Linked DNA regions of Homo sapiens. The protein of the gene in region 1 purifies or fractionates together with the protein of each later gene. This does not show direct contact. Each region holds a gene or a part of one and is shown in the gene's direction. Other genes may lie near its edges.

What was found.
Region 2: the proteins of DCAF4L2 (region 1) and PYGL purify together in Homo sapiens (affinity purification with mass spectrometry; 3 studies listed by BioGRID and IntAct, with this or other methods). This does not show direct contact.

Annotation. Positions count from the first base shown.
Region 1 is NC_000008.11:87,870,420-87,875,511, reverse strand, and holds DCAF4L2 (DDB1- and CUL4-associated factor 4-like protein 2), read left to right. Parts: upstream 1-1,496; 5' UTR 1,497-1,540; coding exon 1,541-2,728; 3' UTR 2,729-4,765; downstream 4,766-5,092.
Region 2 is NC_000014.9:50,906,188-50,910,850, reverse strand, and holds part of PYGL (glycogen phosphorylase, liver form), read left to right. Parts: intron 1-748; coding exon 749-956; intron 957-1,895; coding exon 1,896-2,030; intron 2,031-2,513; coding exon 2,514-2,580; intron 2,581-4,663. UniProt on the Homo sapiens protein: Allosteric enzyme that catalyzes the rate-limiting step in glycogen catabolism, the phosphorolytic cleavage of glycogen to produce glucose-1-phosphate, and plays a central role in maintaining cellular and organismal glucose homeostasis.

The DNA of each region.
Region 1 (5,092 bases):
GGCCAGGCGCGGTGGCTCAAGCCTGTAATCCCAGCACTTTGGGAGGCTGAGGCGGGTGTATCACCAGATCAGGAGATCGAGACCATTCTGGCTAAGATGGTGAAACCCCATCTCTACCAAAAATACAAAAAAATTAGCCGGGCATGGTGGCGGAGCCTGTAGTCCCAGCTACTTGGGAGGCTGAGGCAGGAGAATGGCCTGAACCCGGGAGGTGGAGCTTGCAGCGAGCTGAGATAGAGCCATTGCACTCCAGCCTGGGTGACGAGCGAGACTCCGTCTCAAAAAATAAAATAAAGTAAAATAAAATAAAATAAAATAAAATAAAATAAATAAAAGTTGGTCGGGCGCAGTGGCTCATGCCTGTAATCCCAGCACTTTGGGAGGCCAAGGCAGGTGGATCACAAGGTCAGGATATCAAGACCATCCTGGCTAACATGGTGAAACTCCATCCCTACTAAAAATACAAAAAATTAGCCAGGCATGGTGGCAGGCGCCTGTAGTCTCAGCTACTCAGGAGGCTGAGGCAGGAGAATGGCGTGAACCCGGGAGGCGGAGCTTGCAGTGAATCGAGATCACGCCACTGCAGTCCAGCCTGGGCGACAGAGCGCGACTCCATCTCACAAAAATAAAATAAAGTCAATCAATAAATAAAAGTTAAAAAGGAATATTTTATAATAATAATGGCAATCTTTCAACAGGAAGACAAAAACAATTATAAATTATTTATATCTAAAATGTAAACTGACCAACAAGAATTGGCAAGGATATATATACACTTTTGACAAGAGTGTAATTGGTTTGTCAATATCTACTTAAGCCATATTTTGACAAGAGTGTAATTGGTTTGTCAATATCTACTTAAGCTATATATGTCTACCTAATAACCCTCCACTTTCAAATTTTTTTTTTTTGAGACGGTGTCTCCCTTTGTCGCCCAGGCTGAAGTGCAGTGGGGCTATCTCGGCTCACTGCAACCTTCGCCTCCTGCGTTCAAGCGATTCTTCTGCTTTAGCCTCCCGAGTAGCTGGGACTACAGGCGCGCGCCACCATGCCCGGCTCATTTTTGTATTTTTAGTAGAGACAGGGTTTCACCATATTGGCCAGGCTGGTCTCGAACTCCTGACCTCGTAATACGCCCACCTCGGCCTCCCAAAGTGCTGGGCCAATTTCACTTCTTAGTAAATAAGAGAAATGTATGCATACAGCTATTATGACGTGTGTAAGAGGGGTCGGAAAAGAATCTCTAAACAGGAATAGAAATGAATAAAAGCAGCTGTCTGAGTAGGGGAAAACTCGAGAGAAGCAGCGGAACTCTTGTTTCAGATCACGCGATTCTAACGAGAGTTATGTCAGGGCACCTCAGAGCATTCGGGATTTGGGCCAAGGCGACGAAGAATCTCGTCCGGGTCGACCTCATACGCACAGGCGCAGGCGCAGCGGGAAGTTCTTCCGTGCCAAGTCGTGCTTGTAAAGAAGCGGTACTTCCTCTTACTCCCGGGACAGAACTTCCCCTCAGGAGGGAGAACATCCGCCGAACGAAATGGAGAGCAAAAGACCGCGACTGCTCGAGGAAGCAGACAAGCAGAAAAAGACAGTCAGAGTGGGACTCAATGCACCTTCCATGCTACGAAAGAACCAGCTAGGTTTCCTCAGATTCGCCAACTATTGCCGTATAGCTCGCGAGCTGCGTGTAAGCTGCATGCAGAGGAAAAAGGTCCAGATTCATAGCTGGGATCCCTCCTCTTTGGCAAGCGACCGATTTAACCGCATACTGGCGAATACCAACACTGACCAGCTCTTCACAGTGAACCAAGTCGAAGCTGGAGGCTCCAAGTACGGCATCATCACCATGCGAGGCCTGACGACCCCTGAGCTCCGGGTATACCCGCACAAAACCCTCTACGTCCCTAATCGGAAGGTGAATTCTATGTGCTGGGCCTCACTGAATCACTTGGATTCCCACCTTCTGCTGTGCTTCGTGGGACTTGCAGATACTCCAAGCTGTGCCGTGCTGCTCCCAGCGTCGCTGTTCATAGGTAGCTTCCCAGGAATGCGTCGGCCTGGCATGCTTTGCAGTTTCCAGATCCCTGATGCCTGGTCCTGTGCCTGGTCCCTGAGCATCCACGCGTATCACTCTTTCAGTACAGGCTTGTCTCAGCAGGTCCTGTTGACCAACGTGGTGACGGGACACCAGCAGTCATTTGGGACTAGCAGTGATGTCTTGGCCCAGCAGTTTGCAATCATGACTCCTTTGCTGTTTAATGGCTGTCGCTCTGGGGAGATCTTTGGCATTGATCTGCGCTGTGGAAATCAAGGCAGCGGGTGGAAGGCCATTTGCCTGTCCCATGATTCAGCAGTGACTTCTCTGCAAATCCTCCAAGATGGCCAATTCCTGGTGTCATCAGACATGACTGGAACTATCAAGCTGTGGGACTTGAGGGCCACTAAATGTGTAACACAGTACGAAGGTCATGTGAATAACTCCGCCTACCTACCCGTGCATGTGAACGAAGAAGAAGGAGTCGTGGCGGCCGTGGGCCAGGACTGCTACACGAGAATCTGGAGCCTCCGTCATGGCCACCTGCTCACAACCATACCCTCCCCATACCCCGCCTCGGAGAACGACATTCCCAGTGTGGCCTTCTCTTCTCGCCTCGGGGGCTTCCGAGGAGCACCAGGGCTGCTCATGGCTGTCCGGGAGGACCTTTATTGTTTCTCCTACGGTTAATTCTTCAGGATGCAGCCCGGAGGAACGTGGATTTGACTTAAAGAAGTAAAGAGCATCGTATTACCGTTTCTATGAGCGCATTTTAAGAGATGTTCGGTGTTTGTAGATCCCATCCATCCGGCTGCTAGGGGTAAGGTGCTGTTTTATGTGAAGATAGTTCTGTAAAGTTGTTTCAGTTAAACTGGGCTGAGAGAGCTTGAAAGTCCTTTTCATAAAAGATAACTATTTCCTTTTCTTGTTGAATACCTTAGAATAGTTATCCCCCCCTTTTTTTTTTTTTTTAACAAAAAAACACTTTTCTAAGGACTGAAGATTGGCAAAAACTAAAATAAATTAAAACTGCTTACACCAGAAGCCTTTTAGAGAAGCATGAGACTGTTTGACTAGTCCTACCTGGGTTCCGGAAATACATGCATCATCTGTACTTGAAGAGGCCAGTGGGAGAGGAGAGGAGGGGGAGGTCATTTATCTGAGTCTCTCCAGAAGTTTTTAAGGCTACATTTTGGAATCATTAAACTTGGCCTTCTCAAACTCAATAGCAGATCTCTGAGATTCTCCTTTTATTATTTTCCATAGGCAATGGGAGGAAAGGTGGATCTTTTTAAATAATAGAAGTTTTAAACAGTCCTTAACGTGCTTTTGTTGAGGCATCTTCCAGAATGTAAGGTACAGCAGCTCCGGTTTCTATTATTGTGACTTGAATGTCAGGATTCAAGGGCTCAGTGTCAAAGATAATTGGCTTTGACTTTTTGTAATCTAGGAGCAGCAGTTTGTGAGATGTTTATTCAAAGTGTTAGCCTGTTTTTCTACCAACAATAAGCTAGAAAAGACAAAAAAAACAAAAAACAAAAAAACGTGTAATAAAGTTAGTGGCTACTTCTTAATAGCCAAAGCCTGGAAATGATCTCACTTTACAATATGCTAAAATTGATAAATAATTTGTGCTGTAGTCATACAATTGGATAAAGCATAATATAAAATAAGGCACAATTGCTATATGAAACTGTGGATTAATCTCAACATGTTGATTGTAAATGTAGGTAGAAATGAGTACAAACTGATTCAGTTCTAAAGTTCCAAAGCACTAAAAACTTATCTATGGTGATTACAGTTTGAATAGTAGGTATCTCTGTGGAAGGAAGAAAGGATATTGTTTGTTTTTTTCCCTTTTATTTTTAGGATATTGTTTGGAAAGTAACACGGGGAAACTTTAGAAATGCTGTTTTCTTTTTCTTGATCCTTGATACATACATATTTTGTATGTCTATACACTTCACACTTTATATAATACCTCAAAAATAAAAATATGAAAACAGTACACTGTTGTAGGTTGGTCAGGAAAGGGAATGATTGTGGCTTGGACCTGACTATGAGAAGTAGAAATAATCAGAAAAATCAGAAATGATTGCATTGGAAGATCATTCGAAGGTAGTATTAGTAAGATTTGCTGATGAGAGTAATCTAGAAAGTGAAAGACAGCATAAAGATTGCAGCTTTTTTGTTAACTTTAGGACTGGTGGATGGTTGGTGTCATTTACTAAAATGGGGAGGATTTGAGGTGAAAAAATTTTAGGTGAAGAGAATAATGCTGAGTTTTAGGCAACTATTAAAATGTCCATTCTGTAGATTAGAGGTGATGTCAGGACATAAATGAGGTTAATGTAATATTACATATTGATAGAGGAATAGGTCAATAGAGAAGATACAAAAGAGTGGTTAGGTGCATAGATTTTTGAAATCAGTTAAATTAGTTTTTGATACTTGATGTGTGACAGGGGAAACTGTGTAAGCTGTACTTGTTATTTCTTTGTAAAATGTCTTAGATAATAAAACTAAATCATAAAGTAGATATTGGTTTAAAGGATGTATACATTGTCCCTTTTACATTGTAAGCATTCAATAAGAACTAGCTGCGGATGTAATTTTTTTTAAAAAAGTCCAAAAGCAGCTATGGGCAGTTGACAAAAGAAAATGTAATGACTACGTAACTTGCGAATCTGTTTACCCTCACTTGCAAATAAAATAAGTGCAAATAAAGCAATGATTATGTATTGTTTTCATTCATTATTCTAGTACAATTTTTGTTTATAGCAGCTTTATTTATAAATGCCAAAAACCAGAAACAAACAAGATGTTCCTCAAAAAGTGATGGATAAACAAACTAGTATACATACTTATATGATGGAATATTACTTAGTAATAAAAATAAAATAGCTATTAAGCTGCAAAAAGACATGGAGGAATCATGAGTACTTATGAAGAAGCCAATCTCAAAATGCTATATATATATATGTATAATTCCAACTATATGGCAGTCTGGAAAAGACAAAACCATAGAGATGGTTAAAAATATTAGTGGTTTCC
Region 2 (4,663 bases), on another chromosome or scaffold:
CAGAGGCTAGATGTCTAGCCCCAGGCACACCTCAATTACGTGTGGCTTATTTCCCTGCAGGAAAAGTGGAAGGAAGGAGGTGAGAAGTAGAAGGAATGCAGACAATCCAGTCTCCTCAGGTTGCCAAAGAGGAGTCCTGGAGGGACACTCTGAATGTTATGGATCAAGAGAGAGAAGTTCAGCCTGGGCAGCATAGGGAGACCCCATACATACAAAAATTTTAAAAAATTAGCTGGACATGGTGGTGCTCGCTTGTAATTGCAGCTACTTGGGAGGCTGGGGCAGGAAGATTGCTTGAGCCTAGGAGGTCAAGGCTGCAGAGAGCTGTAATCGCACCACTGCACTCCAGCCTGGGTGACAGAGAGAGACCCTGTACCAAAAAAGAGAAAGAAAAAAAGAGAAATTTCAATATATTTTATAAAGTAGAAGAAATAAAAATAAAACTGTAACAAAAATTGGAAGGAATAAAAGGAAGAAGAGAAATGTAGTATCAATGTTTGTCGCAGTCAATAGATACTCTTCAAAGTTTATAGCTCGAGAAAGAAATACAAGCATATAAAATGGACAAAAGTGGTTGCCTGAGTCAAGGGGAAAGAGTGTGATCTGCCTTCTAGACCATTTGAATGTTTATCTTAATGTGCATGTATTACTTTAATTATCAAAACAGCCCAACTTAATAAATGCTTCAATACAATACAAGCAGATCTAGACAGACAAAATTACTAATTTTAACTTACCTTTCTTGCAGTCATTCCAGCCACAGATCTGTCAGAGCAGATTTCCACTGCAGGCACCGAAGCCTCGGGGACAGGCAATATGAAGTTCATGCTAAATGGGGCCCTAACTATCGGGACCATGGATGGGGCCAATGTGGAAATGGCAGAAGAAGCTGGGGAAGAGAACCTGTTCATCTTTGGCATGAGGATAGATGATGTGGCTGCTTTGGACAAGAAAGGGTAAGAGAATAGCTTCTCTTTGCTAGGCAGGACTGCCCCTCCCCCCTAGAAGGTATGTGACCTCAGAGGGCTTCCTGCCCACACCGATATCCCACTGAAATTGGATCACATAAGAGGTGGCAGCAGAACATCTCCCACGATGAGGCAGGAGAGCCTCCTGGCCACAGATTAATATTATTAAACCCAGCAAATAAAAGTACAGACACATGGAGGAGTTGCTATTTGTTATCGGCCATTGCAGAGCTGGCCTCAAAGAGCTATTTTTCCTCCGTATGTATGATTTTTACTTTGATCAAAAGATGAACCAGTTTCTAGTTGGAAGGGTTGCCTATAATTTAAATCATGATCTAGTGCTCCTTTAAGATATCAAAGAAATGCACTAAAATGTGATAGAGAATAGATACGGGTGTACAGAAGTAATTGGAAACATTTATTTTCACTTCATATCTGGATGGGTTTATTAACCTGAGTTCAAGCACAAAATAAAGAGTACTGCCCAAAGAAGTAACATTTGGAGGATGTTGAATATACTTCCTGACCCTTGGAAGTCAGTTTCACTCAGTAGCAACAACTTTTGAGAATCTGTGGATCCAAAAAGCAACTGATCTACTTAATACAATGTTCATTTAAAGCCATAAAGTCTGCTTTGAAATGGACCTTGCTGTATTCTACCACATCAGACTCTTGATGTTTGACTAGAGTTTTCATTATCTATTGTTCTTAGTGTCTTTGGTTATAAGGAATCAAATTTACAGGAAGAAAAACTTACAGATCTAGTTAAAAGTTATATATACTCATGGTGAAATCTATAATGAAGTCTTTGAATGCTAGTATTTCTGAATGTATTTTTTCACAGTGAATGCAGTGTCTAGTGTGTTGTTAATCACACAACACAATAACAGAGCCTTTTTTTATCACCCACCCACCCCTACCCCACAGGTACGAGGCAAAAGAATACTATGAGGCACTTCCAGAGCTGAAGCTGGTCATTGATCAAATTGACAATGGCTTTTTTTCTCCCAAGCAGCCTGACCTCTTCAAAGATATCATCAACATGCTATTTTATCATGACAGGTGAGTTCCCATAAGAAGATGGTGCTATTTGGATCATGAAAGGGGGACAAGAAAATCTTAAACCAACCAACTCTAAAACCAACAAGAAAATCTTAAACCAATCTTAAACCAACTTAAACCCACTCATGTAGATTAGCATAGATTAGCGTGATCTGCTCAGGTAGTTTAGGCTTGGGGAAAAAGTTAGATATTCTCCACCAGCGATGCCAGTAAGGTTTAAGAATAACACACACAAATCTGGTTCTCTTTTTCTCCTTCCACTGATATTCCCAACTTCCAAATGCATCCCAGTGATGACATTCTCACATGTGAGAACCATAAGAAGGTTGAGGGCTGGTTAAAAGTCTTACAAACAGAAATATGAATTTGGTAAACCAGCCATGCCTGATATTAAGCAAAAGATGATTTTACATGGAATTTTAGCATATATCTATTAATGAAGATTTTGACTGTTTTTTTCCTCTTCCACTCACAAAATAAAAGGTTTAAAGTCTTTGCAGACTACGAAGCCTATGTCAAGTGTCAAGATAAAGTGAGTCAGCTGTACATGGTGAGTAAATTGCCAAGATTTATAAAGAAAACCAGTTTACTATGATTCATTAAAATGTGGGTTTTTTAATTAAATGCAAATATCAGATCCCCATGTAATATCAGATCCCCATTAAGCAATCAAAAAAAAAACAACAAAAACAAACAAACAACCACAACAAAAAAAAAAACCTTGTCTTTTCCCAAGTTCAGGCCAAGGTTGAGATTTGACATTTCAGCAGGAGTTGTAATTTTTTTTTTTTTTTTTTTTTGAGACAGATCTCGCTCTGTCACTCAGACGGGAGTGCAGCGGCGTGATCCTGACTCACTGCAACCTTCACCTCTCGGCCTCCCAAGTAGCTGGGATTATAGGCACGTGCCACCACACTTAGCTAATTTTTGTATTTTTAGTGGAGATGGAGTTTCACCGTGTTGGCCAGGCTGGTCTAGAACTCCTGACCTCAGGTGATTCACCCGCCTCTGCCTCCCAAAGTGCTGGGATTACAGGTGTGAGCCACCATGCCCAGCCAGTTGTAAATTTTTTAATATCCAAGTTTTTTAAAAGTCACAAATAATTCAATATTTTTTGAGCACCCACTCTGTAGCAGACATGTCCTGGAAGCTAAGGAAATAAAGCCTCAGAGGGGCATTAGGCGTCTTTTTTATGCCGGGCACTGTGCTGGCACTGAGAACACAGCATGAGCAAAGTTGAGGTCTCTCCCTCCCTCCCCTCCCTCAAGGAGCCTGTTTGAACATCGAGATTCTTAACCAGAGGTACACATCAGAATCACCAAGGTAGCTTCATCATAGTACAGATGCCAGCCCCCGCACTGAGAGATTCTTTCCCAGTAATGGGTGGGGTCATCAGTATTTGAGAAACCTGCCATGATGATTCTAAGGCTAAAACATGGTTTTTTAAGATAAGGACTGACCCCTATTCTCTGAAAATTGCAAAATAGGTACCTCTTCTGGACTTCTCATGGAGGGGGCTGTATCAATAGAATATAAATTCGTAGAAAGAGAAAGGTGTTCATAATTGAATTTTTAAAAAAAGAAAGAAGAATAAGGAAGACAATACTATACTGAGGGGAAAAAAAAGGGATGGGTAGAGCCATGTGAATAAGCCTCTGCATGCAAAGTTATACGCTTTATCAAACAACTCTCTAGCTGTGTTTTGTAAATATGTAAAAAGGTTGATCATCTCTGATAGGAGAGACTTTTAGTGAATTTCAGATACCCTAGAGGAATGGATACTGGAGGGGGCTAGCTCTGTGCCAAGACTCCAGGGTGGGTTTTACTAACATTTCTTTCTACTCCTTTCCCAAGGCAGATAAAAGGGTAGTTCCTACTGTCATCCTAAATGTCCCACTGGGATTTTAAAAAGGATCATTCAACGCCTGTGCTGCTTTACAGCCCTTATCTTCTAATAGAATAATGGCCAGTCCCCCAGTGGCATATAGACCAGAATAAGTTCAAGTTAATGGCTACAAACAAGCAGGGCAGTGCTAGAGCTAAGCTCAGGGGCTCACTACCTGCTTCCTGTACATTGGAGAGAAAAGCCATATACAGGCCGCAAGAATGCAAAGACACAGGGAAGAGAACGGCCACCTCAAGACAGATCAATAAAACAGCACAGGAAAGAAAAATATGAACAAGGGCAAGGACAAATGTGAATGTCTCCTCTGTTAAAATTATGGCCCAAATCCAAACGATGCTCATCTAGAAACCCAGCATTTGATTCGGTCTTTCTTGTTCATTAGTGCTAATTGCAGCTTTTTACTCTTAACAATGATTGTATTGTTGAGACTTAGTAAACATGACCCATATGACTGGGAAGTCTATTCATTATCCATTTAAATAGTTAAAGAAAATGAAGAGAGAAAGCTTTTATCCTCCTCTTATTACAGGAAGCTTCCAAAGTCTGAATAAACAAATTTCAGATGCTGTTTTGCTGTACCTTAAGGAATGATGGTAGTTTTAGTCTTTCTCGTAAGCATTTATAATGCATTGATAACATTTTTGAATAATGTTCTGTTCACTTCCAATACACTTTTAGAGTTCCTTACAAAATTAAGAGGCTATAAAATAAATTCCTTCTTATCATA